2 linked regions of the Homo sapiens genome follow. The protein of the gene in region 1 purifies or fractionates together with the protein of each later gene. This does not show direct contact. Each region holds a gene or a part of one and is shown in the gene's direction. Other genes may lie near its edges.

Evidence for each region.
Region 2: the proteins of PEPD (region 1) and MSN fractionate together in Homo sapiens (co-fractionation; one large-scale study listed by BioGRID). This does not show direct contact.

What each region holds. Positions count from the first base shown.
Region 1 is NC_000019.10:33,399,697-33,403,495, reverse strand, and holds part of PEPD (xaa-Pro dipeptidase), read left to right. Parts: intron 1-72; exon of another isoform or gene 73-1,626; coding exon 1,627-1,775; intron 1,776-3,799. UniProt on the Homo sapiens protein: Dipeptidase that catalyzes the hydrolysis of dipeptides with a prolyl (Xaa-Pro) or hydroxyprolyl residue in the C-terminal position.
Region 2 is NC_000023.11:65,726,425-65,730,223, forward strand, and holds part of MSN (moesin), read left to right. Parts: intron 1-1,389; coding exon 1,390-1,485; intron 1,486-3,013; coding exon 3,014-3,288; intron 3,289-3,799. UniProt on the Homo sapiens protein: Ezrin-radixin-moesin (ERM) family protein that connects the actin cytoskeleton to the plasma membrane and thereby regulates the structure and function of specific domains of the cell cortex.

The sequences.
Region 1 (3,799 bases):
GGGATTTGGGTGAGAGGCCCTCGTGACGGAAGCCGCGGCTGTGCCCCTGGCCTCAGACTTGTCAGGACTCACCCAGCTACAGATGGACCCCATGGGAAGCCCAGGGTGGAGCCAAAGAGGGGCAGCTGCACTTCCTCAGCCCTCCTGGCTCTGGTTCTGGACCCTGCAGACGTGGTGGGCTCTGGTCCTAGGGCTAGACCAGCCTCCGCCAGCCAGGGTCATCACCATCAGTGTCGTGACTTGGCCATGACCTGTGAAGGGGCTGGTGGACCCGAGGGTTCCGCTCTGTGTCTGCTGCCTGCAGCCTCCCGAGGTGCCTAGGTGGGATGGATGGAAAGGGGCACCACCTGCGCCCCTCCGCCCCCTCAGCCAGGCCCAGCCTTGTCCACCTGGGCTGCTTCCGGGGAGTCCTGAGAGCCAGGTTTGGATCCAGCAGCCCTTCCCGTATCCTGTCCCTTCCACACCACAGGATGAGCGGGAGGCTGCTTCTCTGCCGTTGCCCAGAGAGGGCCCTGAGGTCCTTTGCACAGCAAGGACAGGCCCTACTCCTTCCGGGCCCTGCTGTGCCAAGGGTCCCTCTTACAGGGCATCCAGAGGGCAGCCCCAGCCACCATCCTCCTGCCTCAGCAGGCCTCCTGTCATCTGTCCCACACTGTCTGTCCCACGCCATCTGTCCCATGCCATCCTGCCTCTCTGCTGGCCCCCAGGCCCCTCCCGTCCTGGACAGCTGGCACCTCTGCCCCATTCTCCACGCCCCTGCCTGTGTCCTGCTGGTCTCTGCCTGCCACCGGAGGGTGCCAGGGTGCAGGTGGACAGGGTGAGGGGGCCCACCTGGCTTCGGGGACATGTGGCCAGCAGGCCCTGGGAAAGCCTTGCTGGACATGAGGCTGTCTGGCACTTCCTCCCTGCCCTCCCCTTGGGCCCTGGCAGAATATGTCCGTCCCATCCCCATGGGCAGAGGGGTAGTGTCGGGCACACCCCTCCAGCTAGGGGGCCCCAGAGCTGCAGCAGAGCCAGAGGCCCTAGCCGCCGACTGAGTGTCTGCCCAGATGCTCTGGGTCCTGGAAGAAGCAGGTGGTGTGATTCAGGCCCGGAGTTCTAGGCCGTGCATCCCATCCGGGGTCCCTGCCCAGCCCCCTCCTCCTCTGCTTCCCACAAGCACGGCCTCAGCCTGTGCTCTGTGCTGGGTGCAGGGAGACCTGGGAGAGCCTGTTGGGGTGCCGGGTGGAGGCCAGGCAGCGGGCGGGGTCCTGGGGCATCTCTGCCTCTCCTTAGTTCTCCAAACAATTCTCCATGGCTCTGAGCTCTTGGAGGCCAGGCCACAGGGGTGGGTGTCATCTGCATAGGACAGCCCCACTCCCCTCAGCCTTCCCTGCCTGGGCTGAGCCCTGAGTCCCTTTTTCCCTGGAAGACACAGGTCTTCCAGGATGGCTTCGGGTTTCCTTGCTGCCCACGCACCCGTGGGAGACACCAGGTGGCAGTTCCCCACACCGGTCTCATTGTGAGGGGGAGTTGCATCCAGGACCCGGGCCAGCTGCCCTCGAGTCCAGGGCAGGTGGGGAGCGGTAAGGGTAAGGGGGCGGTGGCACCCCAGTACCCACTTGCCCTGCCTTCCTCTCTCCGCAGCCTGTTCGACATGGGCGGTGAGTATTACTGCTTCGCTTCCGACATCACCTGCTCCTTTCCCGCCAACGGCAAGTTCACTGCAGACCAGAAGGCCGTCTATGAGGCAGTGCTGCGGAGCTCCCGTGCCGTCATGGGTGCCATGAAGCCAGGTGAGCAGCGGGTCGGTGGGGGGAGGCGCATCTGACGTGGCGTTGGGGGCGCTGCTATGTGGCAGGTGCCTGCAGGGAACGGGTCTGCATTGTGTGACTTGAATCTGCCACACTCCAGATGCTTAGTCCCTGAGATTCCAGTGGCGTCAGGTCTCCAGGGTCACTCCTAGGAAACAAGGCTGACCACCAGGCAGGGACAGACAGAACCAGGAATTGCGGGGCTCAGGCCAAGGCTCCCCGGTCTGCTGGCCTCCACCTGCGCATCTCCACTGGCCACTAGCACGCCAGCCTGTCTCCTGCTTTGTCCTTAAGCGGTGTCTACTCCAGGGAGGGCTCAACCCACTCTGGACACTGGCATGGGGTCAGAGCAGGTTCACGTGCCGCTCAGCGCTCTGTGACCTTGGATGGAAAGCCCTCCTCTGGGTGGCCGTTTCCACATCTGTAAATGGGGAAGCAGCCGACTCATGGAGACTGAGTTAAGCTGTGTAAAGCACCTGCAAGGCCGCCTGGCCTGTGGTAGTGCCCTGCAGGGGTCACAGTCACCACCATGATGGCCATGTTGAGGCCAGGATGGGCCTGGTGTTTCTCTCTCCCAGCGGCCAGCGTAGGCCAACCTGTCCTGCCCTCAGCCCTCCCAACCCCAGGCAGCCTGCACAGGCCCCACTGGTACCTCTTGACCTCCCACCGCGCGCCGTTGATGTCTGTCAGGGCAGGCAGAGGAGGTCCCCTGGAGGGGAGCCAGCATCCTCCCAACAAGGCCAGCTTTCAGGAGTTCCCCCTGGGCACCTCCCGCTGTCCCCATCCCGCTCAGCCAGCCTCCTGCCGAGTGACCCCTGGGTCCTCCATAGCCCTGGCAGGGGTGGAGTCTAGCACCCACAGGATCGAACCCCAGCTCTCTGCCCTGCAACAATAGAAACCATTTCCCAGCAGTGATGGGAGGTCCTGGCTTGTCACCTTTGCCCAGAGGAGAGAATTGAGGGATGTGGTCTTCTCATGTTCTTGCTTCAAGCCTTCCAGGGCTTCAACACAGCACCCCTGCCGTAATCCTTGGATTCACCAGAGCCTGGGCAGGTTCCTATGGGATCACCATGTGCTGGCCAACCCCTAGGCCTGGCCCTCTACAGGCACATGGCTCCCACGACTCTGACTGAGATCTGTTCGGCAGCTGCCAGGGTCCAGCCTGCAGCGCAGAGGGGCTTTCCCTGCCCACACCGGCCCAGGCACAGCTGGCCCCCCAAGGCACGCAGGTTCTGCATCTTTGGTTATAAGCAACAGAACAGTCTCCAGCCAATTCGGTCATTTGGGGCTGCCACAAATTCACAGAGGTGGAAAATCAGGTCTGGGCTGGGGCCAGGGCTGCAGTGGCACAGGACAATGGCCCTGTACTCACAGCTGGATCGTCTGGCCAGGGCCCGCCCTCAGCACACAGGCCCCAGCCACCTTCTGCAGCCTGGAGTCCCTCCATCTGGGTCGAGGTCAGAGATCACCTCGTGTTGGCCATGCCCAGGTCATAGTCCAGCCCCCCCAGCTTGCCCCCACCCTCGCCCACTGCCTCTCACCCACAGCTATACAGACCTCCAGAGAGACAGGCAGGCCCAAGGCAGCCCCCTGTGTAGGGGAGCTCAGGCGTCCTCCAGGAGCCAGGTGGGCTTACCGCGGGCAGAGGGGATAGCCCAGTAGCGCAAGGCTTCAGAGTCCAGGATGCAGGCCCCAGACCCAGAGTGCCCCGAGCCCAGCCCCAGCTCTGCCGCCTGCTGGCCAGGTACCTTACTTAAGCCCCAAACAGGCGAAGGATAGACCCCTGCTCTCCCAAGGCAGAGTCCACTTCAGAGCGGGCCTGGCCAGCTCTGGACCGTGGCATCTAGTTAGACATGGAGTGCCCTCTGTTAAGGACCCACAGAGAGCTGGCAGCTGCCAAGTGCGCCCTCAGTGTTCAAGGAAAAAAGAAGAAAGAAAGATCTGGAGCCTCCAGAATGCGGCCTCAGAACTTGATGGCTCGGCGGTCGACTGAGCAGTCCCTGCGG
Region 2 (3,799 bases), on another chromosome or scaffold:
CACAGGGTTGTTTACTGTTCAGCGCCTGACACATGATTGGTGCTTAATAAATATGAGCTACTTTTTTCTTTGGGGTCTCTGAAGCTCTAGATTGTAAACTCTGGGTGTGACTGTGGGGCCTGACTTTGGATGCATAATAGAAACTTTGTGGATACAGTGTTAGTGTGTGTATGTGTGTCTTTGTGAGTGAGTGTGTGTGTGCATGTGTGTGTGTGTATTTTGAAGGGAGATATTAATTTGTTCATAAGGGAAGGACATCAGCAAAACTGGGTCCTTGTTCCCTGCTTCCATCTCCAGGTATATTTCTATGATTCTTTCTCACCTTACCCTTACCCTCCACTTGCATCCTTCTCCCAAAAAACAAAATAAAAAAGACTGCCTAAGGCCAGCCTGACCTCATTAGGATGTGGCTCAGCTTCACTGCTGCCATCGACAGTGGTGGGTATGCTGGGGTTGAGCTGAGGGCCAGACTATTAACATGCTAATGTCAGGGACTAGAGAACAGAGCTCATCTGTGTTCTCTTGGCAAGCCTCCTTTTCCTGCCCACTGTTCAGCCAGGAGGCTCAGGACAACAGGGGGCACCTCAGCTGCTACACTGAGGTACTTACCCTATTTCTACCCTCATTTCCACCCTAAACCTGTGTAAGAGGAATCATGACTTGGCTCTGATCAGGGTTGGAAAAAATCCTCTCAGAACCCAGGCACAGCATGGCTTCAGAGTCCTTCACAATCCCCGTTTTATCTTCTCAAACATTCTTTATTTGGGGTATTGTAAATGGAACTCAGTCTTAAGGGTGTGGGTATTACCCCCAGTTGCTAAGGATGAAGGACAATATATGGGAGTGGCCCAAGAGAACAAGATACAGGAGTTAATCCAACAATCTCCACCTTCAGCCTTTAATCCATCATGGAAGTGGGAAGTGGTGTGACATTGTAGAGGGAAGGAGGAGGTGGCAGAAATCACTGGATATGCATGGATTTGGAGTCAAACAGACCTGGTTTGAACCCTAATTCTGTCACTCACAACCTGAAACTTGGGCAAGTTATTTCATTTATTTGAACCTCATTTTTGATATCTATAAAATGGGCCTAATTGTAAGTCTAGCATAGGGGTATTATGAAAATTAAAGGAGATGATGGATGTAAGGTTCTTGGTATGTGTCAGTGCTCATAAGTAATAGATCCCTTTCCTGCCTCAGCAGTACTTTGTGCAGAGAGATGCCGACATCAGTTCTTGATTGCTGCTCAAGTATATTTTCTTGCCAGATGCTGAGCACCTTAAACCCTTTAAGGGCAGATATAATATTGACTTCAAACTTTGTGTCCTCTGTGCCTCACACAGAGGAAGTATTCAATCAATGGTTGGTTGTTTTGGTTTTCTCTTCTAGGTGGTGAAAACTATTGGCTTGAGGGAAGTTTGGTTCTTTGGTCTGCAGTACCAGGACACTAAAGGTTTCTCCACCTGGCTGAAACTCAATAAGAAGGTAACTGCTTATTCCTCTGTTGGATTTAGAATTCTTTTCTTTTCCAGAACATTCCTGGGAGGGTACCATGTGCTAGTTGGCAAATCCTGGATACCTAGGGCTGTGTTTGTGACTGGGTGGTCTGTTGACCACTTGGATCAGAATAAGGACCGAGGACACAAGCAAGGCAAAGCTCTTGCTCTGTCTCTACTTTGACTTCTAACAGCGACAATGGCCAGCATTCAAAGAAGAAGAGACTCTTTTCTTTCTAATGGGAACACTAGCTTGAACTTTGACTTGTTTTGGATCAAATCCATTAGTGGCTTTTCAAGAGAGGATTGGTATCCCCTTCATCTCTCCAAACTCAATGGCTTTAGGGGATTTGTGTTTTTTTTGTTTGTTTGTTTTTGTTTTGTTTTGTTTTTGACGGAGTCTCGCACTCTCGCCCAGGCTGGAGTGCAGTGGTGCCATCTCGGCTCACTGCAAGCTCCGCCTCCTGGGTTCACGCCATTCTCCTGCTTCAGCCTCTCGAGTAGCTGGGATTACAGGTGCCTGCCACCACGCCCGGCTAATTTTTTGTATTTTTAGTAGAGACGGGGTTTCACCGTTTTAGCCAGGATGGTCTCGATCTCCTGACCTTGTGATCCGCCCGCCTCGGCCTCCCAAAGTGCTGGGATTACAGGCATGAGCTACTGAGCTTGGCTGGGGATTTGTTAAAAAGAGCCACAGATTCTTGAACTAGAAAAAAAAAAATCTGAAAGATCTTACAGTCTTATGCTGCACCTTCTCCAGCAGTCAACTAATGTCTGAACCCCATATAGATGTTTCCCTCTTTCTTGATCTTTTACCTCAGTTGGACCCCAAATGGGATGGTTTGAGTCCATGCAAGCTCTCCACCCCAAGCAGCATCTTCACGGGAACCTGGCAGCCTTCCATCTTCGTATCCTCAAACTGGCTGGCCTTGTCCTTAGAAGTCTCCATACTGTCCTGCAGTTTGCTTCTCTGATTGTGTCTAGGGAGTAGGTACCCCACCTTCTGCTGGTAGAGTCTTGTTTTCCTAAAGAGTTGAGTCTTTTGCTGGACAAGTGTGGAGCCACTAGTATTCCATTTCAGGCTTTAAAAAATGGTCTAATTTGTGCTCTTGTTTAGCCAGTTCTCAGTCCTCAGACATATATCCTAGTCCTTACTTTGCTAATTTATGAAGTTGGAGGAGACTTATAAGACGAGCTTAAAAGAAGAGCTTATGCCTACTATCAGAATTTGGGGATAGTTGGATATAGTCAGATAAAAGTGGTTTGAAGATTTCTGATCATCAGTCGGTATTAAGGTAATTTCAGGAAGAAATTCCCAACAGAAAGTGATTACAGACATGGGATTCAGTCCCCAGTGAAAGTAATGTATTATTTTTCTTAATTACCAGGGGAGTTGCCACCCAGCTGTCTAAGATTATGCAAATTGATGATCTTTCAGTGTTTTCTCCCCACCCTACAGCCACTCCATTACCCTTAAAACCTATTTTTTGAGAGTCCATAACCCTTACTCTTCCCAGGTGACTGCCCAGGATGTGCGGAAGGAAAGCCCCCTGCTCTTTAAGTTCCGTGCCAAGTTCTACCCTGAGGATGTGTCCGAGGAATTGATTCAGGACATCACTCAGCGCCTGTTCTTTCTGCAAGTGAAAGAGGGCATTCTCAATGATGATATTTACTGCCCGCCTGAGACCGCTGTGCTGCTGGCCTCGTATGCTGTCCAGTCTAAGTATGGCGACTTCAATAAGGAAGTGCATAAGTCTGGCTACCTGGCCGGAGACAAGTTGCTCCCGCAGAGGTGAGGTGGTTCCCTGCCCTCCTTTGCCTTGGCCATAAGGGGCTGCAGCCCACAGCTGACCAATCCCTGCCTCACAGGGATGCCAGATCTGTTCTTCTCCATTGGGGTCTGTCTGAAGACTGTGTTATGCTGCTCAAGAGACATTTGCATATAGTGTCAGACTCTGTTGTTGTTTTTCTGGCTTTCCAAATAAAAAGCCTTTTTGTTTTCCCTCTGTCTACCTGGTTACAGAACTTTATTACCCTGGAGGCAGGTGCTTATATAGAACCAGAGATTGAGTAATTTCTTTCACCCATCCCTGGTTCCATTTTCTCAGTTCTTTTTACTGATTTAGATCTCTTATATCAGAAGTTCACAGGGGAGAGAGAGAAATAAGCAAACCGAGGACATGGGGAGCTCAAATAGTCTTTTAATATTGACAGCTAGTGTACAGAGCTTTCCCCTTTTGTAAACTTCAAAGTCAAAAGCTCTAAAACACTCATTATTTTTGTTTTTGTATCACAATAACACA